Regions from separate parts of the Homo sapiens genome. Here all the other regions are reported to be linked to region 7. The links are microRNA targets in miRTarBase. Many come from high-throughput screens and were not tested one by one. Region 7 holds a microRNA gene; each other region holds the end of a gene's coding sequence.
The links. The annotated mature microRNA hsa-miR-4659b-3p reads UUUCUUCUUAGACAUGGCAGCU and lies in region 7 at 1,678-1,699, shown strand. An mRNA with a match to its seed (bases 2 to 7 or 8) in the 3' UTR can be bound and repressed. Matches are read on the target gene's strand: a 7mer-m8 pairs with bases 2 to 8, a 7mer-A1 pairs with bases 2 to 7 and ends in A, and an 8mer does both.

Region 1 (4,080 bases), not on the chromosome of region 7:
CATACAGGTGTATACATGGCAAACATTTTATACTCTAATACATTCACTGTTAGGTGGCACTCCATGAAAAGTAAGTTTTCCCAGTATGGCTGAAAGTCAATATTGAGGTCATCATATAGAATATCCTAAGGCTTTTAAAAGATGCCTCCTCATTCTCTGCATTTACATTATTGTGTGGTAAATAGGGAGACATAAATGATAATGGCAGAAGAAAAATTTGCTATATTAGTCCTTGAAAATTACAGACAGGAAATCAAACTTAAAAATGATCTCTTTGCATATTTTCTCTCATTCCACCCACTCCTTTGATTTCCTGCTGTAGATTGGGTAAAAGTTAGATTGTATTTGTTTGGTTGTTTTGTTTTGTTTTGTTTTTTTGCCTCACAGGACTTGTGAAATAGTCTTAAGAAACAAGTAAAACAAAAAGTGCACCAAGGTGTATCTACCACCATCTTGGCGCCCATGTGTAGCCCTTGTGCTACAAGCTCTCTGAAAAGACAATGCCCAGCTGAGACAAATGTGCATAGGCTAAGGATAAGCTTCGATTGCATATCACCATTTTTTACTTTTGGAAGGCCCGCAGCCTGCTTCCCCAGTGTGCTCCAGGGCAGAACTAATGGATAGAAGACAGTCAAAGGCACCTTCTCTCCATTCCCCTTTCCAAGGACTCCCTTTTAGTAAACTCCCCCTCTAGCTGGAGGACCCATGGTTCCCTTCTACCTCTTCCCTCCTTTATAAATTAAGGCAAGTCCATTTACTCTAAGTGCCTGCTACATAGGCACTGTATGTCCACATGGAAACCATAGCATTGGCTTGAAACTGCCTTTTGTCTAACAAGGTTTCTGGGTGCATATCATTAGCAGCAGTACAAAGCTTTCCCTAGTTAAAAAACTGCACAATTATTCAAAAGCTTCATCATGTTTGTTTTTTTCCAGAACCCAGTTGACAAATAGGACAAAGTTAATTCTAAGCAAACACTATGAGAAAGTATCTAGGTTCAAGAAAATACAACATAGTTACCTCTATATTTTATTCATGATATGATGAAAAATCTGTTTTCCATTATATTTATAAAATTAAATTCATGTGTCATTGCAAATATTCTTGGCTAAGATCCTCCTGAAGGATGAATGAATAGCCAGTTAGAGAGAAAGTCTGCCCAAAAACCAAATTTACGGGACATACATTTCAATAATCCTAATCATTTTAAAAGGATTCATATACATTTTCACATAAAGAGCAGGTGTAAAAGACAGAAAGATAATAAAACTACAAGGGAAGGGAAAATGGAAAGAAGAGAAGAAATATATTTTAAAAATAATTAAGTCCTACACTAGAATTCTTTTACAAAAATACTTTGATGTGATCATCTACTCTACTTTCAAAGGTTTTATTACTCTTTTTCACACAATATTAAGGGTTTCAGTCTTAAAATTAAATTATTTAATATTATCAATGTCTTCATTTGAAAAGAAGAATTGTACTGTGTCCATATCTGTGTGTGTTTCTGTATGTTTGAATTTGTATGCTATCACAGGAATGGGCATATGTTTGTATATTGTATATGGCAAGATGTATACACACAACCCAAATGTATACACACATTTTTGTGTGTACATGTATGCTATTTGGTATACCACAGGTACATACACACTCCTCATAAACATTCTCTTCAGTATAAACAATTTCTTTTCCTCCCTTTAATTGCTAATAAGTACTATTTTCTGATCATGAGTATTTATAATCTTGAAATCAACTCTTGATTATTTGTGGTCTTGACATATATGGTTTTGAATTGAACTCCCTTATCTAAGTCTAAGAGATTAAGCCATATGTGCTACATTTAAGTTCATTAAAAGCTGAGGGCATGCTTTTATTTCTCTATGACCCTACTTTGCATGGACTGTATTATCCTAGGAAACTATTGGGGTGTGATTATTTCTAAACATGAAAATAAAATAATTAATAATTGTAAGAATTTCATCAAATTTTATAATTTTATAAACACCTCACAATATTCCTGTGAAGTACATAGGCAAGGATTATTGTGCTCTAAGTTTTTTTTTTTTATTTTTTAGAGTTGTCAAATATCACAATGACACGAAGGAGGAAGTAACGCTCAAGCTGTGTCATTGTTCTTCCCTGTAGACCCGGACTATTAAACGTTAGGTTGCAGAAACTTTGTGTGAAACTTTTGCCTCTGCCTTAATCTCATCCCTCGGATAGGATGAAACTCAGAAGTGAGGAGTCAGAGCCAATTTTAAACAAGTCCATTCAGACCTCATAAATTTCAAGTTTCCTAAAGATATTTCAGAGATCCCTGTGATTTCATGGACATAATTTCAAACACATTGCTCTAACTGCTTCTACCAGCCTTCCTCTTTCTTTCCTTCAAGTCAAAAACTTGCAGTTTCTTGAAAAATCTTCCTTAAAATCTGGAATTTAGAATTAAATATTTGAAAATCCCAAATTGGCAGGAAAGCTTGCAGTCTTTTTCTTCTTCCTTCCTCTCTTCCTCCCTCCCTCCCTCTCTTCCTCCCTCCCTCCCTCTCTTCCTTCCTTCCTTCCTCCCTTCCTTCCTTCCTCCCGTCCTTCCTTCTGTCCTTCCCTCCCTTCTTCCCTCCCTTCCTCCCTCCCTTCCTTTCTTCCTTTCCTTCCTTCCTTCCTTCCTTCCTTCCTTCCTTCCTTCCTTCCTTCCTTCTGTCTTTTTCTTTCATCAAGAGCATCATTAAGAGGGCTTTTTAAAGAGTTATTTTCAGAGTTTTCAATTTTAACACACTTGTACCTTACCATTTACTGGGTACTTGCAGGGCAATATTATTTAAGAGATTGCCAAATTAAAATGCCATACATCTCTTTCACCCCTCAACCATTTTTCCCTCTGAAATTGGCATTCACAGCTCTCCAAAAACATTTTTCTCCTATATTTATAGCTGCCTTAAATAGAAATACTGTGAAACACTATTATTTTCATATAACAAAAATCACTGATTATGACCTTCAATATTACTGATGCATGGAAACTGATTTGATGCAGATTTTCTATGACCAAAAATTAGCTATGATTGCCCAACTGTGGATGACTATAGAGCATTATAACAAGTCCCACAAAACTAGTAAGTTTTAAGACAACAATGTAATACACAAAATGTTGGGCATTCAATTGTTTTGATTCCCATACAGCATCTGATTAAAAAGAGCGAGCAAGAGAGGGAGCAGAAAGGTTGCAGGGTATAGACAGCGTAGGAGTCATAGGCTGGAAATAGAGAACCTAATCAAGTAAACACTCATGAATTCTATGTTACAAAGACTAATTTTGAAAAACAAAGTTACTGGTCTTTTTTTTTTATTCCTAACACTAGAAGTAGATTTTGCTCATCAAATGGGAAATGAAATATTTATAGTAATGAAGAGTATGATTGTAATCACTGAAGAAACAGTTTTTCCCCTTTTCCCACCCACTACCAGCCCTATTCCCTTCAGAGACTCAGTGGAATAGGAAGATCAGAGTGTTTACAGATAGTATGCCCTAATACAATGAGCTTTCTCCATCTTATTCATGGAAACTCCAAGTAGTGCTATCAAGTGTTGGCTTCTCCTTCATCAAAGACATAGTTGAGCTTTATGACAGTGCTGATAAAGTCACCAAGTTCTACAAAATCGGCAGTGACAATATTGATGCCACTCTCTCCTGGCTTCTGCGTGCGGACCCACTGCATCATGGCAGGAAGAGCTCTGAGAAAGGAAACAAAAAGAAAAGTCACAGAAGGCAAGATACTATTTTTCAAGCTCTACAATTCTCAGTCTTCCCTTTAGTTTCTAGCTTATTAAAATAAATGTTTCACGTATAGGTACAGGAAGGGGAAAAGGCCAAATGGACTCTGGGGATTTTTTAACCTTTGAAGAAACTCTGCAGGAGAAATATTCACTATATTGATCCGTATTGGAGTTCTCATCTCGGCAGATCCCAGATACTGTGATAGTTTATAATGATGCTTCCCTACTAAGAAAACAACATTTTTGCATTTGTATTCTGATTTAACATGGTGTCATCACAAACCCTGCAAAACTACGGATTGG
Region 2 (4,072 bases), not on the chromosome of region 7:
AGAAAAAAAAGAAAAGAAAAACATACCATCTTAATATGTCAATTGTAAACTAACTTAGTAAAGTCTAGTTTAGGTGACCAGAAGTAGACATAGGTCAATTCTACTAATTCAATAAAATCCTCAAACCCTCTTAAGAAGGTAGGACGTAGAACAAGAAGGCAGGCGAGACAGAGAGGCACAAAGTCATAAATCTCGACTCCACCAAAATTTGGAATAATTCCCCTATTCAGCACTGTTTCTATAACATACTCAGTATGTGATATTAAGAGCTCCTCAAAAAACAGGGTTTCATGATTAGGTGGGATTGAAAACAGTAGGGTAAAGGAAGTTATTAGGCAGGTATCTCTTCACAGGCCTTCTCAAAGTTTTTAATATGCAAACACTGTGATTCTCTAAGAATGTGCTATACATAGATTTTCCAAAATATATTTGGTTATAAATTCCCAGAGCATTTCCAGGGACCAGTATTCTAGGAATTCATTTTGGGAAGCACCGTTCCACAGATTTAAAATATCATCCCTTAAACTAATTTTTGTGAAAATAAAGGGCCACCACAAAGATGCTTTAAAAAATATGTATTTAAGCTTTCTAGGCCTTAAAAAAGTTGATTTCCTTTCTCGTTTTTGTTTTTGTTTTTGTTTTTTTTTGAGACGGAGTTTCAATCTTGTTTCCCAGGCTGGAGTGCAATCTTGGCTCACTGCAACCTCCGCCTCCCAGGTTCAAGCGATTCTCCTGCCTCAGCCTCCCTAGTAGCTGGGATTACAGGCATGCGCCACCATGACCGGCTAATTTTGCATTTTTAGTAGAGACAGGGTTTCACCATGTTGGTCAGGCTGGTTTCGAACTCCTGACCTCAGGTGATCCACCCACCTCAACCTCCCAAAGTGCTGGGATTACAGGCATTAAGCCACCACGCCCGGCCTCTCTCTGTATTAAAGAAAGGTTTTCTTTTTTTTGAGGCGGAGTCTCGCTCTGTTGCCCAGGCTGGAGTGCAGTGGCACGATCTCGGCTTACTGCAAGCTCCGCCCCCCAGGTTCATGCCATTCTCCTGCCTCAACCTCTCGAGTAGCTGGGACTACAGGCGCCCACTACCACGCTTGGCTAATTTTTTTTTTGTATATTTAGTAGAGATACGGTTTCCCCATGTTGGCCAGGATGGTCTCGATCTCTTGACCTCGTGATCCGCCTGCCTCGGCCTCCCAAAGTGCTAGGATTACAGGCGTTGAGCCACTGCGCCCAGCCAAGAAAGGTTTTCTGTTGGTAGAAAGTCCAATAAGTGGGGCCAAAAAACTAGATTATAGATTTTTAGAAGTTTGCGGCAAAGCAGTGTTTCTCAACCCAGATGCATATTAATATCACTAGAGACCTTTAAAAATTAAAGATCAACATCCAGGTACTACCCCCAACCAATTAAATATAACTCCTTGGGAGTGGGGTGTGAGTACTGAATATACTTTTAACAATGTCCAGATGATTGCAATGTGCAATAGAACACACTGAAGTATAAAAGACCCGGAAAGGTCTAACTAAATTAAAAATTTTAAAAAGCCGCTGGTAATGGTTTCAAGTGTTAAATAAATTTTAAAAAAAACACTTAATTTTCAAATTTGGACAATTCTTCAAGTGATAAGAAAAATATTTAAATTCAGACTCAAGCAAAATAGTGTGTGCAAAGATAAAAGAATGCCTAGGCTGGGTGTGTTGGCTCCCGCCTGTAATCCCAGCACATTGGGAGGCCAAGGTGGGTGGATCACATGAGGTCAGGAGTTTGAGACCAGCCTGACCAGTACGGTGAAACCCCGTCTCTGCTAAAAATACAAAAATTAGCCAGGAGTGCTGGCAGATGTCTATAATCCCAGCTACTCGGAAGGCTGAAGCTGGAGAATTGCTTGAACCCGGGAGATAGAGGTTGCAGTGAGCTGGAGATTGCGCCACTGCACTCTAGCCTGGGTGACAGAGCAAGACTCCGTGTCCAAAAAAAAAAAAAAAAAAAAGAATGCCTAATACATTCCTTATCTGATTAATGGACTTTTAATTTTCATAGGTAGAATCTTCCTTTTTTTGTGTATCAATTAATCCCCTGTGATAATACGTGCTGGATATGTATGTTCCAGTCAGTCATCACATACAGAAATGAACTAAAATTACTAAATCTTTTAGAAACAAAAATCAAGGATTCACAAACTATGGCATTTTATTTCAGAGCCTTTGCTTACATTTGTACAATATATTACATAATTCTTCATTGTTTGCAGATCCTAATATATACTTTATAGCTTTTATTCTATAAGCTTTTTTCTTCAACATTTTGCTGTCAACAAATCTTTACAGTCCTGTACAAATTTGAATAACTTGAAACCATTTTCAACAAAATTAGTTACTGTAAGCACACACTACAAGACTGAAAATGCTTTTCTTAGAAAAGTTGAATGTAAAGGATTCTGACACGTTAGCATCTACAACAAAACGCATTGAAATTCCCACGTCGTATTGCCAGGAAACAAAGAAAACATGCCAGCCCCATCCAAAAAAAGTACACAGAACTACAATTAAAACAGTAAAACAGTCTGTACAATAAAGTACTGTGTATTAACAGTGCCAGATATTAAATAGCTTGAATGAACACATCCACAATATACAAATGTCTTACAAAGGTGAAGAATTAAATACAAGTGCCAAACAGAACAGAGATTGGAATCATACAACATAAAGTCAATACAAGTGAAAACAATTTTGCATTCATTTTGGATTTTATACAAGGCATTTAATTTTATAGGCCTACCACCCCCATTAGCTATTTATATTTAAAATAACCACCATCCTTTTGAGACAGTTCCTATCAACAATCTTGAACCATACTAATACATTACTTGTTCCTGAAGTCCTTTTGTTGTAGCTCATAATAAAATAAGCAATACAAATGAATTATCTGTATTTAAGGGAAAAGAAACATTTACAAGAAAACACAAAAATATAACTGTTATAATTCATTATGAATAAATATACACTTTGAACTGGCTAAGTACAATCTTTATACATTGTTTAAGATTTAATACAGTTTATTAGCCATTTTCTTTTTTCACACAATGTATATCAAAATTAAAAAAAAATACTGATTTATAGAAAAATGGCAAAGTACAGTAGTTCCATTCCAATTTGAAGGGCCATGAAAAGCCACTGCAAGACCTTTTAGCCTAATTCAAACCTGTAAACATGTTCAGTCTTTTTTAAAGAGAATCTTTAATATTTGGTTACCAGGATTGATGTCTAATATCCTGTTAACTGCAGGTTTTGAATTTATTACATGTGCTTGACTTATACAATTAAAGCCACCCTAAGGTGACTTGCTTTAAAAAACAATTACCTTGTACAAATGAAAATAGGTTCATATTTTTTCATAAATAAATGGAAAAATATCAAATGTTCCAGCTTTAACAAAATACAAGGGAATACATATACAGTAAGTTATCTTAACATGTTCTGACCCACCCCTTAACTATGCTTACTGTATTGTCTCTACAGGCAGTGAAAAGCCTCCATTTGCCACAGTGGAAGGCCTTCCAGTTACCAGACACACAATTCCCAGACAAGTTGGAAACAATTATTGCTTGAGGAAAAGCAGTTCATTGTACTTTTTCTTCATAAAAAAGTGCACTTAAGTGCCAAGTCAGCTTGTCAAGAAACAATTTTTAAATATAAAATAGTGCTTGTCTGATATTTTTTTGTGCCACTGTGCAGTATAAAAAAAAAGTGGCCCTCAACAGCCATTAAGTGCAAAGTGCTTTAGCAAGTCCTGCTGTCACCTGCACTCAACTGACATTCCATTTTGTGATGCGCTGGACATTGACGGTTCAGCTAAAGTTAACATAACAGCAGCTGTTATGGAACTGGATGAAGGTGAAGAGGAGGATGAGGATGTAGCAGCACCTAAGGAAAAGGGAGACCAAACCAAGAGCTTAATAAAAATTTATGTCTAACAATAGACAGAAAATACTAGTCCTCTGAACTAAAATTCCGCTATATTGTCCAAAATCATTTAGCTTACAACAACAGTGGTCAATTCTCACAGTTC
Region 3 (4,000 bases), not on the chromosome of region 7:
CGTGGGCTGGACTCAGCGGCCGCCACCCAGTGGGGACGCATCCTATCCTCATATGTGCTCAAGACAGTGCTGCTGGCAGTGCTGCTGCGCAAGGGGGCCCCTGGGCAAGGCTGGGACGAGGAGCACCTGGGAAGGTGTTTGGAGGAGTTGGTGCAGTTCCTTAGGGACTGCCTGCTGCGACGCCATACGCTCTTCCACTGCGTCCTGGGCCCTGGTGGGGCGGCTGCCGAGGTGGGTCCCCTGCCCAAGGCACTGAGGGAAGCCGCCCCAGTTGACCTCCTGGCCGCTTTCGACGGGCACGCCCGGGAACTTGCAGCAGCGCGGTTGCTGTCCACGTGGCAAAGGCTGCCCCAGCTTCTCCGGGCCTACGGGGGTCCCCGCTACCTTGCCAGGTGCCCCCCACCCCGGAGTCAGCGCACCCAGGGCTTCCTTGAAGGTGAACCGTAAACCCTGACAGCACCCCCACCTGACCAAATGCTCCTAAAGCCTTTCCCACTGGGTGGGGGTGGGAATGGCGGTGAAGCCAGTTAAATGCAAGATTGCAGAAGGCATTGGAAAATTTGGTGGCTGCCACAAGCTTTAGTGGCTTAAATATCACCTTCTCGCTTCACAGTCCAGTATAATATGACATCTTCACACCCACTAGAGTGTCCTGGGCAAACCATGGGAAGACATCCAACAGGAGACCCAAGAATTGGTTCAAATATTGTTCTGTGTAGACGGATTCTGTAGAAGGATGTGGCTTTTAGAGAAGTCCAGTAGAAGAAGCAAGAACTAGCTGCAGGGAAAGTTCCTTCTGTCGGTTTTTAGACACAGATCTCTCTGCCCAAATTAAAAAAAAACAAAACAAAACACTAAAGTTTTTGACACAATTACTTGCTAGGTACTGGGTTCCTGATTGTCTTTAAAAAGAAAAATCTGAATCTTTATTTGCAACTGGAATTGAAGTTCTATTTTAGGGGCTAATGTTTAGAGGAACATAATTTCCACTGTTCAAATTAATATTAATGTATTTTTAAAATGGTGCAATCACAGGTGTTTGACAAGATTGTCAACAAGTTAAGTCACATAGATGGAAAGGCAATCGAGAGTTGGTTAGAGAAGCTTCCAGAGAAAATAGCACTTTATATTGATCAATTCACTCATTTTGTGGTAATTGCTAGCACCAAGCATTGCATCTGAAAGGGAAGCCAGTTATATTTATTATTAAATGTACAACCTTGAAAAGCAGCCAGCATGCTTGCCTAACTAACATCGCCGCAGGCCACAAGCTGGGATATGTACCTGTCCGTCAACATCCATTCATTAAACTACCTACTACCAGCCAGAGATGTCTGGAACCAAAGTAGCAACCAAATACATATTCAAGACAACACTGGTGAAGGCATAAAACATGTTGGCTTTGGAGAAAGATGTGTTTTAGGCTTTGCCTGTAAAGGTGTTTCTCCAAGGCTGGCTGCTGGCTGGAGACAGAAAACTTTTTTGTTTTAAGGTTTTTAGCAAACTCCTTCACAAAGAGATTTCTTTCTGAGCTTAATGAGCTAATGAAGAGGAAATGCCTGCTGCTTAGCATGTGGTTTGTGCTGGGTCTCTAACCATTGATGGTTCTTCCTTGTCCAGGCAGTCTTACGTGGTCCAAGAGACCTGTTGATTCAGCACAGGTCTTGCAAAACATTTCACTTATAGTTCAGTATCTTGGGCTCTGTGCTTGAAGATCAGTTACTCCCTGGTCGTGGGCAGAGGAGACAAATTAGGAAAAGAGCAAGGGAGACAGCCCTTGACGGCAGTCTGTCTCTTTTCTCTTTAGGTGTCAGTATCACCAGGTTGGGTGTATTTTGCAGCTGGGAGGAGCCGGTCCTGGAATTCTTCCTTGTTCTCCCAAATTTATAACAGTCCTCAATTGCAGTTTAAGTTCAGCATGGCCCCTCATCTGCTTGCCTGATTGGAAATGCAGCCAGTCCAAGTGTTACAAATTGGGATTTTTTTGTTTTCTAAATAAAAACATGTACTTCCTCAGACTCTTAAAGCTAAAATTTGGAAGACAGAAATGCCTATGTGAATAGAATCATTGTTGAAGTTCTGAGCTCTTTTGAGGGAACTCTATAAGCCTTCTTTCTTTAGGGGATCCACTTGCCTGCTGTGGGAAATCATAGTGAGTGATTTACAGGAATCCTTCTCCTCCAAGCTGCATTGGCTTCTTATATCCTTTGCGACCTTGGGCTGAAAGAGAAACAGCTGCAAATGTTGTGCTGTCTCTTTGAGGTTGTCTTGGGGACAGTTCCCCGCAAAGGTCATTCCTAGCTTTTGAGGTCAATGTTGGGTCATAAGGTACTGCATTGTGCAAAGAAGTCAGTCTGCTAACTTTATGCAAAGATAGAAACTGCACGGTATTTTTTAAAATTAGTTTTTAAAATAAATGCCAAGAGTAGATCTTATATATATATATATGTATACATATTTTATATATATATATATTTCCATACTCAACCACAACTTCCTCTGTACTCATTGTTTACTACAGTGGGGGACATCAAGGGTTGGAAGGATTATAAAGCTTTAAGGCTGGGCGTGGTGGCTCACGCCTGTAATCCCAGCACTTTGGGAGGCGAGGTGGGCGGATCACCTGAGGTCAGGAGTTCAAGACCAGCCTAGCCAACATAGTGAAACTCTGTCTCTACTAAAAAATACAAAAATTAGCTGGGCGTGGTGGCGGGCGCCTGTAATCCCAGATACTCGGGAGGCTAAGGCAGGAGAATCACTTGAACCCGGGAGGTGAAGGTTGCAGAGAGCCAAGATCACACCACTGCACTCCAGCCTGGGTGACCGAGCGAGACTCCGTCTCAAAAAAAAAAAAAAAAAGCTTTAAAAAGCTGAATTTTAGAAATATTTCTAGCAGTGTCAGTGAGTTCCTCTTTTAATAGTGTTTTAAAGTATAAATCTGGTAACATACTGTTCTTGTAGTTTTTTGTTAGTTTTGTTTTTCAGGTTAATTACCCAAAGCCTCATCCATCCTCAAGGTTTTTAAATTTTATTTTTTTAAAATAAATTGTGCATTGTATTTGTGAATTTTTAAAATATTACTGTTTTATTTAAATGCCATGCTGAGCAATTGTTCTCTGTACATGGTAACCAAAACTTAGAGATTTCGATCAATTTTGATCAATGTTTAGTAAACCAAAACATGTACTGTGTACAACGGAAATAATATGGCATATTAGCCAGGCATGATGGTTGCCCAAGACAGTTAAATTAAGCTCAATTCTGTATTTTATTAGGGCTCTGTTATGTCCTTCATCTGAAATGTACACATTTTTGGTGTATGCTTGGTACTGGAGATTCATATATGCAAATATTCTCATGCAAGAAGTTCCACAGTAACAACAGCAAAAAGAAAAAATTAGTTGTCCAGCCAGTGCTGGAGGAAAATGTTTCTGGGGAAGATGACTCAGTCATTTTGTGGCGAGACACCCTTTGGTAACTCCCACTGACCAGTCTTGGGAGCCTTCCTGGAATGATCGTGGGCTGAGCGGAGATGTTTTTTGCAAAATGAAACTGAAGCTGAAAGAAAGGAGAATTCGAGTGAACCAAGAGAAATCCAAAGACCTGGGGAAGGAGGACTTAAGATGAAAGTGAAGCAAGAGAGGGAAGGGGAAATGAAGTGAAAATGGCGTGAGGGTGTGAGAGAGGTTTGGGTTAGGAAACATGTTTTTAGTGCTATTTCCAACCAGGGGTCGCAAACTCAGCAGCCTGTAGAAACAGGGGTGGGAGGTGGGGGGGAAGCTGTGCCCACCTTTAAAGAGGGGGCCATTGCTCAGCCATGCAGAAAAAAATGGGGCAACAAGCTGGAAATCAGGTTTTTTTTTTTTAAAGTGAAACTTGATGATTTTTAAACAAGTAATTAAAAAAATGTCCAAAACACCATGTGGGCCAAACATTTGTTTGAGCCTGGGGGCCACCAGTTTGCGACCACTGCCTTACGTAGTTAACACCCTGAGTATGT
Region 4 (4,080 bases), not on the chromosome of region 7:
CCTGTCTTTAAAAACAAGTAAGCTTTGACTAGCATTGAGTTCTTAGTGTGTCATTCGAAAATGGCCCTGAAGAAATTCTGTAGTTATGAAGCATTATATAAAAGAAAAAAGCAAAGTAAATATTGTGTGGTTATGCCAATGAATTTTTTTCAAATTGTTTTCATCTCAAGTTTTTCTAGCCCATCCTGTGCACATAAAAATTCTCATTCTTCAGGGAGGCTTTGAGTGTAATTCTATGGTGCATCAAAAAATGAGTTTGAGATTAACGGCCTGTGGAGATCTCACTGTGAGAAGGCAAGGGAGGTTTGTTGTTGTTGTTGTTTTTAAATCTAAGGAATAAGTAAGAGTTTAGTAGTTTGTGAAAGCTGAAAATAAGGCGAGTCTCTGCCCATCTTTATGTATGTGAAGTTATGATGTAGGCATAATAAATTAATACGCCTACAATTTATTATAGGCATATTAAATGAGTGAAAACTAATTTATTGCAACTAAAGCCTGGAAAAAAACCATTTCCACATTGGCAGGGCCACTCTCAAGTGTTCAAATAAAACCAGGGGGGAAAGCCACTGATTTTCTTAAATCTTTTCTCTTAGGCATGGACCAACATGGTGCTAACAGTTCTCAATCAGATTCAGATTCTCCCAGACCAGACCTTCACGGCCCTCCAGCCCGCAGTGTTCCCGTGCATCAGTCAGCTGACCTGTCACGTGACCGACATCAGAGTTCGCCAGGCTGTGAGGGAGTGGCTGGGCAGGGTGGGCCGTGTCTATGACATCATTGTGTAGCCGACTCCTGTTCTACTCTCCCACCAAATAACAGTAGTGAGGGTTAGAGTCCTGCCAATACAGCTGTTGCATTTTCCCCACCACTAGCCCCACTTAAACTACTACTACTGTCTCAGAGAACAGTGTTTCCTAATGTAAAAAGCCTTTCCAACCACTGATCAGCATTGGGGCCATACTAAGGTTTGTATCTAGATGACACAAACGATATTCTGATTTTGCACATTATTATAGAAGAATCTATAATCCTTGATATGTTTCTAACTCTTGAAGTATATTTCCCAGTGCTTTTGCTTACAGTGTTGTCCCCAAATGGGTCATTTTCAAGGATTACTCATTTGAAAACACTATATTGATCCATTTGATCCATCATTTAAAAAATAAATACAATTCCTAAGGCAATATCTGCTGGTAAGTCAAGCTGATAAACACTCAGACATCTAGTACCAGGGATTATTAATTGGAGGAAGATTTATGGTTATGGGTCTGGCTGGGAAGAAGACAACTATAAATACATATTCTTGGGTGTCATAATCAAGAAAGAGGTGACTTCTGTTGTAAAATAATCCAGAACACTTCAAAATTATTCCTAAATCATTAAGATTTTCAGGTATTCACCAATTTCCCCATGTAAGGTACTGTGTTGTACCTTTATTTCTGTATTTCTAAAAGAAGAAAGTTCTTTCCTAGCAGGGTTTGAAGTCTGTGGCTTATCAGCCTGTGACACAGAGTACCCAGTGAAAGTGGCTGGTACGTAGATTGTCAAGAGACATAAGACCGACCAGCCACCCTGGCTGTTCTTGTGGTGTTTGTTTCCATCCCCAAGGCAAACAAGGAAAGGAAAGGAAAGAAGAAAAGGTGCCTTAGTCCTTTGTTGCACTTCCATTTCCATGCCCCACAATTGTCTGAACATAAGGTATAGCATTTGGTTTTTAAGAAAACAAAACATTAAGACGCAACTCATTTTATATCAACACGCTTGGAGGAAAGGGACTCAGGGAAGGGAGCAGGGAGTGTGGGGTGGGGATGGATTATGATGAAATCATTTTCAATCTTAAAATATAATACAACAATCTTGCAAAATTATGGTGTCAGTTACACAAGCTCTAGTCTCAAAATGAAAGTAATGGAGAAAGACACTGAAATTTAGAAAATTTTGTCGATTTAAAATATTTCTCCTATCTACCAAGTAAAGTTACCCTATGTTTGATGTCTTTGCATTCAGACCAATATTTCAGGTGGATATTTCTAAGTATTACTAGAAAATACGTTTGAAAGCTTTATCTTATTATTTACAGTATTTTTATATTTCTTACATTATCCTAATGATTGAAAACTCCTCAATCAAGCTTACTTACACACATTCTACAGAGTTATTTAAGGCATACATTATAATCTCCCAGCCCCATTCATAATGAATAAGTCACCCTTTAAATATAAGACACAAATTCTACAGTATTGAAATAAGGATTTAAAGGGGTATTTGTAAACTTTGCCCTCCTTGAGAAATATGGAACTACCTTAGAGGTTAAGAGGAAGGCAGTGTTCTGACTTCTTTAGGTGATCTGAAAAAAACACCCTTATCATCCAGTGTACCATCTAGAGATCACCACAGAATCCATTTTTTTCCCAGTTCCACAAAACACTCTGTTTGCCTTCAGTTTTTACTCACTAGACAATAATTCAAGTTTAGAAACAGGTAATCAGCTATTTGATCTTAAAAGGCAATGAATTGTTGGGATATCAGTGAACTATGTTGTATACTTTTGAATTTTTACATTTTATAAATGGAATTGAAAGTTGGATAACTGCTTTTTTTAAATTTTCCAACAGAAGTAACACCACAGTTGCTTTGTTTCTTTTTATAGCTTACCTGAGGTTCAGTTCTTCTTTGTGAACCTGTGAGTACTCCACAGTTTACTGGGGGAAAAGGCTTCAGTAAAGCAGAGGCTAGAATTACAGTATTTATACATAGCAACTTTTCATAAAGTAGAAAAATTCAAAGGAAGCTGTCTCAATTTGAGAATACCAGCTGGGCACGGTGGCTCACGCCTGTAATCCCAGCACTTACTTTGGGAGGCCAAGGTGGGCAGATAACCTGCGGTCAGGAGTTTGAGACCAGGCTGGACAACATGGTGAAACCTCGTCTCTACTAAAAATACAAAAATTAGCCAGGTGTGGTAGGATGCACCTGTAATCCCAGCTACTTAGGAGGCCGAGACAGGAGAATCGCTCGAACCCAGGAGGCGGACGTTGCAGTGAGCCAAGATTGCACCATTGCACTCCAGACTGGGTGACAAGAGTGAAACTCCATCTAAAAAAAAAAAAAAAAAAAAGTGAATACTGTATCCCAAAGTATGTTAGTTGTTTGTTTGGAAATCAGCATTCTCCCCGATGCTCTATTATGGGATCCAAAATTCTTGAACATAAGTTTACCCTGTACTGTGTCCAAACACTGTTCTAGTTCTAGCCTGATTATGGGTCCCAAGAATAAAAGGATGAGTAGGTGTACAGAGCTCTTGACCTACAATTTTTTAAGAGTGTTTTGGTACCTTCCCATTGTCTTCTCTATAACTCAGTCCTAACATACTCTGCACTCGAGTTACCAGCCATCCACACTGACATCAGATTTCAACCAGAACCATCACTGAGTGACAGCAGTACTTCTCAGAGGTATTTGCAGCTTGATGCAAAGTAGTCTCTAATGAGTAGGCATTCAGGTGGTTCTTCCCAGCAGGTGGAGAAGAAAGGGAGGAGATGAAGAACACTGAGAGGGGAGTGGCACCTTCCCAGGCTGCCCAGCTCAGTCTCTTGCCCTGTTCCTGTGACTCAGCTGCCCACTCCCCCAACTTTGTTTCCCTCCCTCCCAGTCTCTGAAAGTGTCAGGTGTTTCTCTCCTCACAGTCTCTTTTGCAGCAACAGTAAGACAAAATTCAAGGCAGCCTTTTAAAGTTACGAACAGTTATTAGCATGTATTTACAGACCTAAGCAGAATGAGAGTTTATACATTGTTTTTAGTTGCCTGTATTTATAGCCAAAAGTATATTACCTTAAAGTTGAGATCTTTCTCTTCTTTTCCTAAATTTTGGTAAAGTGTGCTTCATGAAACAAACATCTGGAAAACTCCAAGTATAAGAGACCCTGGACTGATGATGGCCCAGCCAAGTATATGGAGGGACAGAGTTCTCTCTGTCATTAATGAGGACATCGGTTTTCACAATTGAACCTCATGCACTGTCCACAGCATCTCACCTAGCTCCTGTATCTCCTGATCTGCTTTTAAAAATAGTTAGTTAGG
Region 5 (4,080 bases), not on the chromosome of region 7:
ATGAGACTATTTCATTCATAAAAGATGACTGGAGGACATTGATAAACACATAGCTTTTTAAAAAAACAATATGATTTCGATGTATTTCATATTGATATTTATTTTTAAAGTATTAAAGAAATTGACAAAATAAATAACACCATATGATTTTTACATTTAAATAACAAACTAGCCTACAACAAGATAGATATTATCCCTGATTTACCTATGAGAAAACCGAGGGGTTTTTTTTTTTGCCCAAAGTGACCCACAGGTGGCACTGAGGATTTGAACTCAGTTTGTCTCACTCAGAGTTTAATGCTCTGTGTAACCATCCTTCTGTGCCTCCAGGGAATGATTTCAGGCATGTAGATCTGTGCTTTCAATGGAGTAGCCATTAGACAAACATAGCTGAGAACTTGAAATGTGACTAAATCCAGATGTGCTGTAAAATACACCCTGTATTTTGAAGACTTACTGCAAAAAAAAGTAAAACATCTCAAAAAATTTTAAATATATATCTCATATTTTGGATGTATTGTCATATATATATAAAATTAATTTCACCTGTTTTTAATATGGCTCTTACGATTTTCAACTGCTAGGATTTTTGCTTATCTATGTTTGTGTGCCATAAAATGCAATTCTGTCCTTATTGCATGAGTCCTCTTATATGAGGTATCTAAAATAGTCATGCTAAAAACATAAAATTACATGAGGCCCATGTTTCTATGTGTTGGCACTGATTTAGATCATTTCCACTTAGGTTCTGAGAAGTAAAATTTTGGAGTTTCCAAGGGAAATTTCCAGGAATTTAAAACATCAATCAGCTACACTTAATCCTTCTTGGTTTACTCTCTTCTGAACTTAATAAAGATAGACCTTAAATATCCTTTAGAGAAAGCATTTCATATTGAACAAATTGAGTGGTCATCTAGTAATCCTACAGATGGACTGGAGCATCTTATGATAAACTAATTATAGCAAAGACATAATGATTTGGTGATATTATTTTGTAGGCAGTTGCATAAATTCCTAGAGCCATTGCAGGTAGGGTGAAGATGGTGTATGTGTTGATCAGGAATCAAGAGTTGATCCAGAGATTTCATTTTGGTATGGGACATAAATCTCAGTATAGTCTCTGGGCTTCTTCTGATCATGATTTTCCAGCATAGTGTTAGATAACATAATAGATGTCAAATAATACAAATAAATGTCTTCAGATTGTAGTATAAAGACTCTAAATCCCACCACTGTGGTAGGCTGTGGGTTGGAAGGCTCCCTGGAAAAGCATATTTAAGATTCATAAAAGCAAAGGCAACTAGTTCCACTTTAGGCCTAAGAATGACGCTATGAATCTTGAACAGTCACAAAAATTACCTCTTCCTCAAGCATATGTTAATCAAAATTAAACCCTTAGTTATGAAAAACTCAGATTTTATTTTTTAATAAGTCTTTGTATAGACTTTCCAAGATTAGAGAAAATTCTGTTTGTAAACTGAGCTATTTAGCCGGCCTAAACTGGAAAGTAGAAGTAATCCTTTCAAAGCACGATTAGTGACTGCCTTCTGTGCACAGAGCAGTCTAGTGAATGCTCTGGAAAGTATAAAGGAAGCAGACAATACAAATTCTGCCCTCAGGGGTGGGATTTGTCTTATGTGTAGAGTTTGCTCTCTAGCATCAGTGAGTGAGTGTTGAGGTCTGAAAACAAGGGAATAGACACATCTTAGGTCCTTATTGGAAACAAGACTTCTTTGGCTCCATACTTTAATGGAAAGTTTACATGGAATCATGGGTACAATCCATTCTCAAGTGAGAAAGGAGCCATCAGCTCTGTGACTTTCAGGCTAAGCAACCTCATTCAGCAGTCTGCTTGGATAAATAAGGTCTTATTCTATCATCACTGCCTGTCAGCTGTATCTGTCATTTGGTGCCACTAACTTAGGCCAGATTAAACAGAAAGCAACCTCTGCCACAAAGCATCTCCCTAGGAAGAGATCACAACATAAACTAAAGCACTAACTCTCAAGATCCTGTTGTCACGATGATTCAGTTCATATATTATCTCTGACTTTTCTGAGATGATCTAATAAGTTCTAAGCAAAAATAAATATTTAATCTTTGATTAAATAACATTATTACTTAGTCTAGGGTGACTGGGTTACGTAGGATGGCTTGAAAGAGATAAGCCTTGGTGGACATCTTAAAAATTTAACTGAAGTAAAGAGCAACTGGTTTAGTTCCCTTCCCCTGGAGTGTTGTGGTGTTGAGAAGACAAAACTTTGGGAACAATCACAGGGGGGCTAGATAGACAATGCAAAATTGCTGCTGGAGAGACTGAGTGAGTAGATGTTAAATAACTAAGTGCGTGCTGGATGAATAATGTTCTGGATCCAAGAAAGACATACACAGGTAAAAAATGAATTCATGCCTTTTGTGTTGTTCAAAACTTGTACTTTATTTTTCTCAAATATTTTTACTTATGCTTTTTGTCATTATCCACAGTGTTTTTTTTTTAAAGCCTGAGCCACTTTGTGGTTTTAGCCTCAATATAATAATCATCCCCTTACTCTTAGACTAATTCCTTTTCCCCTGTCACTTTGCCTGTATACTCTGTAAAAATGAGGACCTTAGAAAATCAACATTTCCTGTGAACTTGAGAGACTATACAAGCAGTGCCCAAATCAGTAGGATTAGGCAGGTAAAACCAGTTGGATAGCAGATATATTATGATCTGTTGGACAAAGGTATAGTTGTGTGCATGTCTACAAGGTCATCGTGATTCGCCATTAGCTTAAGGATCATGTAGGTTGACCAGGGTGAGGTAGGACTATCCACAGGATTGTGTAAATTGTGGTAGGGGATGCAGTATACAATATTCATGAATTAAACACTTAGCTAACTGCTTTCCTGAAAATGGTCTGTGTTCTAAAAGACAAAGATCTAGGTTTTTTGCTGTTTTTTACTTTAACTTATGAAGATTCAAGTCACTAATATGTTACTTGCTCTGGTTTAAAATGAAAGCAACTGGCTATGGTAAGGTAGAGAAGACAGCTGAATTGTATCAGAATATTTAAGACTTTTAAATTAAGTTCTGAGTTACCTCACCTTATAAAAATATATGTCAATATACTAAATACCCAACAAAGATCCAGGATGTGGGATATTTAAAAATACATTTCTCTTGTATCAGCACCAAAAATACCAGTTTCTGTACAACCCGTGTCAAGTTTTTAAGTATACACACATTAAAATTATTTCTGATAAAAAAATCACAAACTCCACAGAAATAATTAAAGATATATGCAAATTACTTTCAAATACATTTTGACATCAAAGTCAGGCAATTCACTTGGAAGAATGTTATAATGAATGTCACTGAATTTTTGTAGTAAGATGTTTGACGTCAACTTTGATTATGGGAATACATCTCACACACAGGAGGCACTGGTATTTAGAAACTTAGGAAAATTACTAGAATTGTTAAGACTGAGGTGAAGAATTTGTACAGCCTTCCACAATTTCAAAGAGGTAGTGATAGATACTTGTCCTCCTGGCAATATCAAATGCAGTTTCTTCCAAGTTGTTTTTCAGCCCTGGTTTGACGTAACGGTTCATCAGGAGGAGTTCTAGGGTATCCTTGCTGTCTCTGTTCCCAGCAGCAAGATGCAAGGGGGTCAAGAGGCCTTTTGTTTGGGCATTGATATCTGCATCATGCTGCAGTAAGAAAGAAGCCACTCTGGTATTATTCCACTTACAAGCACTGTGCAGGGGCGTCCAGCCATCCACAGTCACTGCATGAACATCGGCCCCCTGTGCAATGAGCTCCTGAACAATATCTAAGTGTCCACTGTAGGCTGCTCGATGAAGAGGGGTATACTCATCTTCATCCCTAGTGTTCACGTGAGTGGCCTTTTCAGAAAGGAGTCTCCGCACTGTGGTAAGCTGAGAAGAAAAAAAAGAAATCTTTCAACTCAACTCAAACCAAAACAATAACTAAAACAAAATTGTCTTGTGGTGTTAGATTTAATTAAGTTGAATAAAAACTTACTTGTTAGTAGATGACTTTAAAATGAAAATAATTTAAGATCTCTTTTTGGG
Region 6 (4,064 bases), not on the chromosome of region 7:
ATCACAACCACACTCCTTTCCATATCTGAAAGAATCTCATATATGGCCTAATTTAACCTTTTAAGTTTACGAATGGGAAAATTGGGGTTCAGAGACAGAAAGTGACTTGCCCAAGACCATACAGCTAAGTTAGTGGCAGGGTCAGGAGCAGATAAATTACTACCAATGTGCTTAAACATGCCCTAATAATCACGCTTCTGTTTCTCCCATTTGAAGCGCTGGGGTGAGTCCCCAACACAGGGACTCGATAGACACTAGTTTTGGTTTAATTCATGGTCTGATTTCCAGAAAAATCATATCATGCTGAATCAGAATTGGTTTTTCCCAGAGGACAATCAGATATCTGACAGTGACTTGTTAGAGAAATGTATGATTTTCCCACACTTTCCCACTGCAAGGAGAGTATGTCTGTTGCTTTGGCCATTTGCAAATTGGCATCATGGGATTTACTCAGTTCTCTTTGTGAGGGTTGTCATCCTGCAGTGATTATCTGATCACTTCCCTCCTACCACCTCCCCACACTTAGAATTCATTTTTCTTCTACCTGCAGGTTAACTACACATCCCCCTTGGTGGCAATGCACTTTACAGACGTGGTGAAGAACCAAGCAGTGCCTGTGCAGTGCCAACTGAAGGGCAAAGGCGTCATAAATGATGTCATCAATGATCGTTTTGTGGGCAGGGTAATCTTTACCCTGAACATAGAAACTTAAGAACTTCAGGGGGCCATTCTTACCAGTTCTGTTTCTGTTTTATCTCATGGTATCTCTGGTAGCACCTGAATTCTTTTTCTTCAATTAGGACACAGCCAGATGGACATCTAAGACAGCCGATCATCTTTCCTTGCCTATGACATGTGTATAAAATGACATTGTGGGAGCTGTTCGATTTTTTAAAGGTAGTGTCTCCTGATGACAAACAGAGTATATTAATTTCCTTTCCCTCCACTTAAAACTAAAGCCTGTTCTTGCTGCTGGTAATCTCCCTGTAGCGTAAACATAGTATCTGATAAAATTTACAATAGCCACGCAATAGCCATCAAGGAGAATTTCTATTATGATTATAAATTCATCATGTTTTCTAAAATTCTGTTGGTTTTAGAGGTCAGATTCCTCCCAACCAGGCTAATAACCTAACACATGTTTAAAAAAAATCTGCCTAAGCCGGGTGTGGTGGCATGCATCTGTAGTCCCACCTATTCAGGAGATTAAGGCAGGAGGATCACTTGAGCCCAGGAGGTCAAGGCTGCAGTGAGCTGCACTGCATTCCAGCCTGGGTGACAGAGTGAGATCCTGTCTCTGAAGAAAAAAAAAACCTGCCTGGCAAGGTCCTTCCCTGGGAATCACCACTCGGTCCAACCTAGACAACCAAGACCGCTATACCTAAAGACCTCTATATCCTGGTGCCTAAGAAACTTCTGCCTCCCACAGACAACTAAGTGCTTATTCAAAGACTAGGTTATTTTCAACTGGGAAAAAAGCAGTGCTAACAGGATATTGTTCTGGGATAGAGATGAAGACCGTCCTTGTGACTTTTTAAAGAGGTGGGGCTCACTGCAACTGGGGAGAACACTTAGCATATGGATATGATTGGTGTTTGATTCCTTGCTCTCTGGTGTAATCGTCTAAAGGCAAACATTCCTGCAAACAGGTTTTTCTCAGCTTCAGGCAGAGGAGACAACATGGAAGAAGATTCCCACCAGCTAATTCTTCTTGGGCTATTTGTTTGACAGTAGCATGATGTTTTTTGAGACCATCAGGGGTGGTTACATAGACCAGCAGCTACAGCTCTGGAAATTGAAATCATAATCTGTCAATGAATACATGACAAGACAGAACGTTCCTTGCCAGGCCAGGCAAAAGCCAAGGCCCATTAGCCAGTTTAGCATTTACTTTAAAAATGACATGAGGCAGATTCTTATCCAGGATGTGGATCAGCCAGGTCACTTTGTCTTATCTTTGGTCACCTGATCACTCAACTGCTTCTTAACACCTCCACCAGGGGGAAGGCTGGCACAAGGAGAAAAAAAAAGCAAGCATCAGCGAATAGTATAGTGTCTCAGGGTCCGAAGCAAGTTTAAATGCCACCTAGGAGGATCCAAAGTCTGAATCTCCTCTACAATGTTTCCTTTCTCCCAAAACAGGGAACTGACTGTCTGGTAGTGAAGACAAGCAAGTGGAGAAGTTATACGATATAGTTTAATGAGAGTTAAAAAACTAGTATGTGGAAAGCTATGGGAATATGAGGAAAAATATCTTGAGCTAAGAAAGTAGCAGAGGAAATTTCACATGCAAAGCCACAGTCATGAAGAGACCATGGTGTGTCTGGGTAACTGTGAGCAGTTTATGTAACTGGAATGAAAAGGGCTCAGAGGAATGGCAGGGATGGCAAGAGATCCAGCTAGAGAGGTATTCAGGGATGGAAAGAGGACTTTGAGTTTTATCCAATAGGTGAAAATGAGTAATTAAAGCATTTTAATCAGGGAGGCTCTGTGATCACATTTGTGTTTTATTTTATTTTACTTTATTATTTATTTGTTTATTTTTGAGATGGAGTTTCGCTGTTGTCACCCAGGCTGGAGTGCAGTGGTGTGATCTCGGCTCACTGCAACCTCCACCTCCCGGATTCAAGTGATTCTCCAGCCTCAGCCTCCTGAGTAGCTGGGATTACAGGCACACACCACCATGCCCAGCTAACTTTTGTATTTTTGGCGGAGACAGGGTTTCACCATGTTGGCCAGGCTGGTCTCGAACTCCTGACCTCAAGTGATCCGCCTGCCTCAGCCTCCCACAGTGCTGGGATTACAGGCGTGAGCCACCGCACCCGGCTTGCAATTTAGAAAGGGCACTTGGCAACCACTATGTGAAGGGTGATTGGAGAAGGACAAGACTGTGGAATGGGGAATAAGGAAGGAGGAGTTTGGAGAATGACTCCAAAGGTTTGAGCTTGGCTAGAACCGGTAAGATGGTGACATTGTTGATCAAGACTGGGAATATAAGAGAGAAGCAGGTTTGGAGAGATCAATTTTGAACATTTTAGACATGATTTTCTATTGGTCAGACATTGATGTGGAGATGTAAACACATGTAGGGTTGGTGAGAAGGAAAGATGAGAACAAAAGCAACATTGGGTTAAGGGAACTCGCTTAAGAAATTTTAAGCTATTTAATCTTGGGAACTGAAGCCAGTCATGTAAACATACTATACCAATCTAGTCCCTAACAGTGTTTTTTCTCTTGTGGCAGAAAGAATTGCTGTTCCTCTTTGGAATCTCCTTCCCAGACACCTTCAAAGTCTTATTGACACAGTAAAGGGAGGCCAACCACTACTAACAAGTTCTAGAAGATATAGGATCTTCTATAGTAGGTTAATGGAAAATACAAAAACAAACAAACATACAATGAAACTGCCTCCTCTCAACCCATTTTCTTAACAAATTCAATTTTCAAAACTAACCTTTAAAAAGAAAAGGAACAAAATGAAAAAGACAATAACTTTTAAACCACTTGAAAATTACCTCAATCAAACTCTCAAGATTCAGTAGTAAAAGATAATAGAATGTTAGATCTGGAAAGGATATTAGAGAGTGTTTAGAAAAAACAACTTGCATTGCATCTGACTCCAGGTCCAGTGCTCTTTCTACTCTGAGCTGCTGCTTACCAGAAAGTACCATCTTCTTAAAAATCAATGAATGATATCCCAAACATTTTGAAACGTATGTAAATTTTGAGTTAAAATAGTTAACATTTCACAGGAATTCAACTACTGGTGCTATACTTTATACATAATACATTATCCTGTTAAATGCATTGACTATTAGACAAGGAATTATGAATCATTTGTCAAATAATATTTATCTTTCAATGGAATCCATTGTGTCCACAATTGCAAAGCAATATTGAAGGGTACTAAGATAGTTTGGGTTGTCAGCTAGGACATGAAAAATGTAGGTTTACTATACAGAACTGGATATGATAATATATTCATTAAAGTTATGTTCTAACTGTTCAATAGACTTCTAGTAGATTAATTTAAATAGTTCCCCATACCGTGCTGCATCAGGATT
Region 7 (4,080 bases):
TTCCTTGATTAAAATATTTACTGACAATTTAACAGAAAACAGTAGCTCTCAATAAGTGACATGAAAATAGACTATAAAAAACTAGTCTAGATTTTCTACTGGCCTCTCTGGAGGGAAAGTAGCTGAGTAAGGAAGAACAGCTATTACATGGTGGGACTGTCCCACACAAGAGGTTTTAAAATGCAGGGTGGTGTGGGAAAGACAAAGATTCCCACAAGCACGTATCTGACTTTAGTCCCCAGGGCAGGGGCAGTTAAATTGATTCACAAACTTGCAACAAAAATCTCAATCGCACACCAAGCTGGGAAGCATTTATTTGTCAGTTAAACTAGTTAACACTTCCTTCTTTGCTACTGGAGCTCATCCAACTTTATGAAGTCCAAAGTTTCAAAATATCACTCTGTGGTGTTCACTAAAACAACTAATTACTGGCATCCAAGTAAGTTAGTAAGGAAATAAAGACAGAAAGCTAGTATTTTTAAAACATAAAAGGAAATGAATTATCATGAATGTTTTAAAAAAATAGCTTTGTGACTAGGCTTCTGCTCCAGAACGCGTAGATAAAGCCACACCATAACTAGAAGGGGAATGGCCAAGAGGAAGACATGCAGAGCATGCCTGCGTGCACCCACCTGCCATGCAAAGATAAGTGGAAGAGCAGGAGGCAGGGAAACAAAGAGAACACGGAGCCGGGCGCGGTGGCACGTGTATGTCTGTAGTCCTAACTACTCAGGAGGACTGCTTTAGCCTGGAAGTTGGGGAGTGGGGGAGAGAAGGAAGAGAGGGAGGGAGAAGAATGCAGAAAGAAAAGAGAGAGAGGAGAGAAAGCAAGCAAGCAAGAGAGAACGAGTGAGGGAAGGAAGAAAGGGAGGGAGGGAAAGAAAAGAAGGAAGGGAGAGAGAGCGAAAGAAAGAAGGAAGAAAGAAGGGGGAGAGAGAACATGAGTTCAAATTGGGCATACTGAGGCTGAAGGAACAAAACATTCTAGAAGTAGTTGGAAATATGGTCTGTAAAATGGCAAGAATCAACCGAAGCTAAGCATGTGGAAACCATGGGAATGGATAACTGAAGTAATGGCAGTGGCTGAGAATAATAAAGGGCAGAAGATGAAAAGGCAAGAAATACAGACTCCGGAAACATCCACATTAAAAAAAAAAAGGTAAAAATAATAACAGGGAATACGACAACCCAGGAAATAAAAAAAGGGGGGAAACCAATGTAATACAAAAACAAAGGGAAGAGATGTTTAAAGGAAGAGGAGGTGATATTTATCTTCAACAAGAAAAATTATACTCCATTGTTTATTTCTACAATAAAGTTAAAATTATTTCCTGGTTATAAAGGTATAAATAATGTCAAAAGTTATGTGAAAGTTAACAAATATGACAACTGACACAAATGATACGATGCTTTGGAGGTCAGTGGTTAAGTGAGAAGTGGGATTCATTTCTGGAGAGTGGATGGAGTCAAACACAAGAAAGCAAGGGGCCCAGACTTCTCTTTGCACAGCTATAGACTTAGTTATTTCAGAATTGGAGTACATTTGCAAGCTGGGAGAAACCCCTGCAGAGAAGTAAGGCAGATGACTGAGGCAACGATGGAGACAGGGTAGACGGAATCAAGAGCTTAGAAACTGTTGACGTTGCCATGTCTAAGAAGAAAATTTTTCTCCAAAGTTTTCTTCTTAGACATGGCAGCTTCAGCAGTTTCTTCCAAAGAAATCCAAGTCAAGAGACTCCACATTAAGATTTTGAAATCAAAAGGGATATTGGGTGCACTCTTTCCAGAGAAATATAACTTTCTGAAAGCAAAAAATCCTTGAATGTGAAGAGAACAAAAATCCGTGAAAACCATGAGGTAGTCAAAAGGAGAAAAATAAAAGAACTGCTCCACACAGACTTGGCTCGGCTGAAATGAAATGGCCTGGCTTGGCTGCAGAAGGCAGTCAGCATTGATCTTACGATGTTCTCCACTGCTAAGGAAGGGAGAAAACAAACAGGGTTGCCAAGGGCTGAGGAAAGGCAGGGCAGGAACAGAACAGCCCAGCACTGGGATGGGCAGACCCCGGGGCTGGGGCAGACAAGAGCTGCAGAAGGCCCTGCAAGCTGCAGAAGGGCCAAGGAAAGAGAGATTAGAAATCAGCCAAAAACACAGGTTTAGAGCGAGTGAGGAGGAGGGAGAACCAGAGTCAGCTATATGGTGTGGGCGAGCCAGTGCCATTTCCAGATGAACTTCAAGGTGGTAAAAGCAGAGCACTGGACCCAGCACAGGACCTCGAACCAAGCACAGGATCCCAGACCAAGCACAGGACCCCGAACCAAGCACAGGACCCCGTACAGGAGAACAAGATCCCCCCAAGCCTCCACAAAGGACTGCAGCCCTGCCAACACCTTGATTTCAGCTGAGTAAGACCCATTTCAGACTTCTCAAATGTAAGAGAAGAAATCTGTGGTGTTTTAAGCCACCAAGTTTGTGGCCCTGCCTGAGAGCAGCCACAGGGAGCAAACACACCTTCTTAAGAGCGAGAGTGCCGTTACCACACAAAGCTGAGCACTAGCTTTCTTGTTTGCTATGCTTTCTCAGAAGTTGGCTTCAAAGTATTCATTTAATTTCTACTTCTTTGATTATGAGAAAGAATAAACATTTGTTCAAGTGTGTGGGTCATTTGTATCTCTTGAATTTCTTATTCATGCCCTTTTCCCATTTTTCTAGTTTATGTCTTTTCTAATTATGAAGCACTTTTGTAATATTAAGTATATTAATATCCTATATTATAAAATATTATTAGCTTGCCATTTGCCAACTAAATTTGTTCATATGATGTTTGAGACATAAAAATAATTTTTATTCAGTTAAGTCTACAAAGAAAAAAATTGCTTTGTAGCTTATTCCCTTTGTTCTCCTGTTTTGAAAGAACTCTCAAATCTCTACAATCGCCAGTGTTATTCACCCTATGAATAACATGGAAATTCTAGGTATCTGGTTTGCCATTATAGACACATCATTAAATTTCTGTTTTCTTTTAAGAGAGTTCAAAAAGCTTAAGTATGTCACCTTCGCTAGCAACTATGGTTTTAACCATGGCAATTAAAAAAAAAAAACCACCATAGGGGCTTACTTTAATGGGTCCAGGTGGCAGATTAAGATACATTTAATTCCACATCCCTTATAACCATTAGAAAGCCAAATACCTAAAACAAGTCTAAGGAAAATTAGTTAAAACAAAACCCTTCGAACAGCTGAGAAAAGTTTAAATATTACCACAGTGCCTGCACTTCTGCAGGACCCCATCTGAACAGCTTCTTCCTCCATGTCTAAGTTTCCTATAAGAGGTATGCAACTGCTATCAATTTGTTCTTTTTGTGAATAAAACTTAGGCAAAAAAACTGAATGATGGAGTTACCAAGACAAGAAATATGAGTGTATGCATGGAAGGATAAATTCTATCTTCAATATGCTGAGTTTGAGACATCCTTTTGGGCCAGTCAAGCGAAGCTCTCTAATGGACAATTGTACAAATGGGTCCAGAGTTAGGCAGAGAGACATGGAGGGGAGGAAGCTTTTGCGAGTCATCAGCAGTCAAGGAAACGATGGCTAAAGCCATGGATTTAGAGGAAGGCCACCATGAGAAACAAAAAGTGAAATTAATCAAACACCAAAACCTGACACTGGAAATAACACATGTAGCAGGGAGAAATGAAGCAGAAAGAGGCTGGAAAGGAGGCTAGGAAGTAATCGCCAGAGAGTTGGGAGGATAATGGAGAACAGCCCCACAGAAGTCTAGGGAGAGAATTTCAAATCAGACCAAAACAAATTGAGGGCAGAGTGAGTACTGGAAAAAGTGCTTACAACAAAGGTAGACTACAGATTCGAGAGTGGTTTTTGTTTTGTTCTGTTTAATAAATGTGAAAAGGGCAAAAGAGACAATGGCATTGCAAAAGAGCAACTGAAATGACAGAACGTCATGTCTATTAGACAGAGGAAGCAATGAAAGTCAAAAGAGAGCTGGCAGATGGGGAGACCAACTGAACCCTCCTATTCTGAAACACTCCTTACTTAATAGGACATGTGTTTAAAAAC

Region 1: the mRNA of PLCXD3 is a reported target of hsa-miR-4659b-3p. Seed matches in the 3' UTR shown: 7mer-A1 at 2,642-2,648 and 8mer at 2,494-2,501.
Region 2: the mRNA of ARID4B is a reported target of hsa-miR-4659b-3p. Seed matches in the 3' UTR shown: 7mer-A1 at 3,635-3,641 and 7mer-A1 at 2,296-2,302.
Region 3: the mRNA of ITPRIPL2 is a reported target of hsa-miR-4659b-3p. Seed matches in the 3' UTR shown: 7mer-m8 at 761-767.
Region 4: miRTarBase lists ARFGEF3 as a target of hsa-miR-4659b-3p. Seed matches in the 3' UTR shown: 7mer-m8 at 1,015-1,021, 8mer at 1,453-1,460, 8mer at 1,631-1,638 and 8mer at 3,524-3,531.
Region 5: the mRNA of ANKRD49 is a reported target of hsa-miR-4659b-3p. The part of its 3' UTR that is shown has no 7-base or 8-base seed match.
Region 6: the mRNA of ATP1B4 is a reported target of hsa-miR-4659b-3p. Seed matches in the 3' UTR shown: 7mer-A1 at 1,300-1,306.

What each region holds. Positions count from the first base shown.
Region 1 is chr5:41,310,036-41,314,115 of GRCh38, forward strand. It overlaps PLCXD3 (phosphatidylinositol specific phospholipase C X domain containing 3), which reads right to left. Exons shown (of 3, transcript NM_001005473.3): 3 at 1-3,735. The coding sequence ends at 3,582. Among named protein-coding and RNA genes, the nearest start is that of C6, 99 kb to the left of the region's middle.
Region 2 is chr1:235,164,726-235,168,797 of GRCh38, forward strand. ARID4B (AT-rich interaction domain 4B) reads right to left here. Exons shown (of 24, transcript NM_016374.6): 24 at 2,177-3,927. The coding sequence ends at 3,800. Among named protein-coding and RNA genes, the nearest start is that of RBM34, 5.5 kb to the left of the region's middle.
Region 3 is chr16:19,115,623-19,119,622 of GRCh38, forward strand. ITPRIPL2 (ITPRIP like 2) reads left to right here. Exons shown (of 1, transcript NM_001034841.4): 1 at 1-4,000. The coding sequence ends at 447. Among named protein-coding and RNA genes, the nearest start is that of ITPRIPL2, 3.7 kb to the left of the region's middle.
Region 4 is chr6:138,335,702-138,339,781 of GRCh38, forward strand. ARFGEF3 (ARFGEF family member 3) reads left to right here. Exons shown (of 34, transcript NM_020340.5): 34 at 594-4,080. The coding sequence ends at 785. Among named protein-coding and RNA genes, the nearest start is that of SMIM28, 40 kb to the right of the region's middle.
Region 5 is chr11:94,497,915-94,501,994 of GRCh38, reverse strand. ANKRD49 (ankyrin repeat domain 49) reads right to left here. Exons shown (of 3, transcript NM_017704.3): 3 at 2,417-3,924. The coding sequence ends at 3,463. It also overlaps a transcript of MRE11 not described here. Among named protein-coding and RNA genes, the nearest start is that of ANKRD49, 6.0 kb to the right of the region's middle.
Region 6 is chrX:120,378,923-120,382,986 of GRCh38, forward strand. ATP1B4 (ATPase Na+/K+ transporting family member beta 4) reads left to right here. Exons shown (of 8, transcript NM_001142447.3): 8 at 551-4,064. The coding sequence ends at 712. Among named protein-coding and RNA genes, the nearest start is that of ATP1B4, 19 kb to the left of the region's middle.
Region 7 is chr8:6,742,794-6,746,873 of GRCh38, reverse strand. MIR4659B (microRNA 4659b) reads left to right here and starts at 1,634; the gene lies at 1,634-1,706. The region is part of intron 5 of AGPAT5 (1-acylglycerol-3-phosphate O-acyltransferase 5); the gene reads right to left. It overlaps MIR4659A (microRNA 4659a), which reads right to left and starts at 1,710; the gene lies at 1,630-1,710. RefSeq lists enhancers at 368-417, 2,030-2,109, 2,140-2,419 and a silencer at 558-607.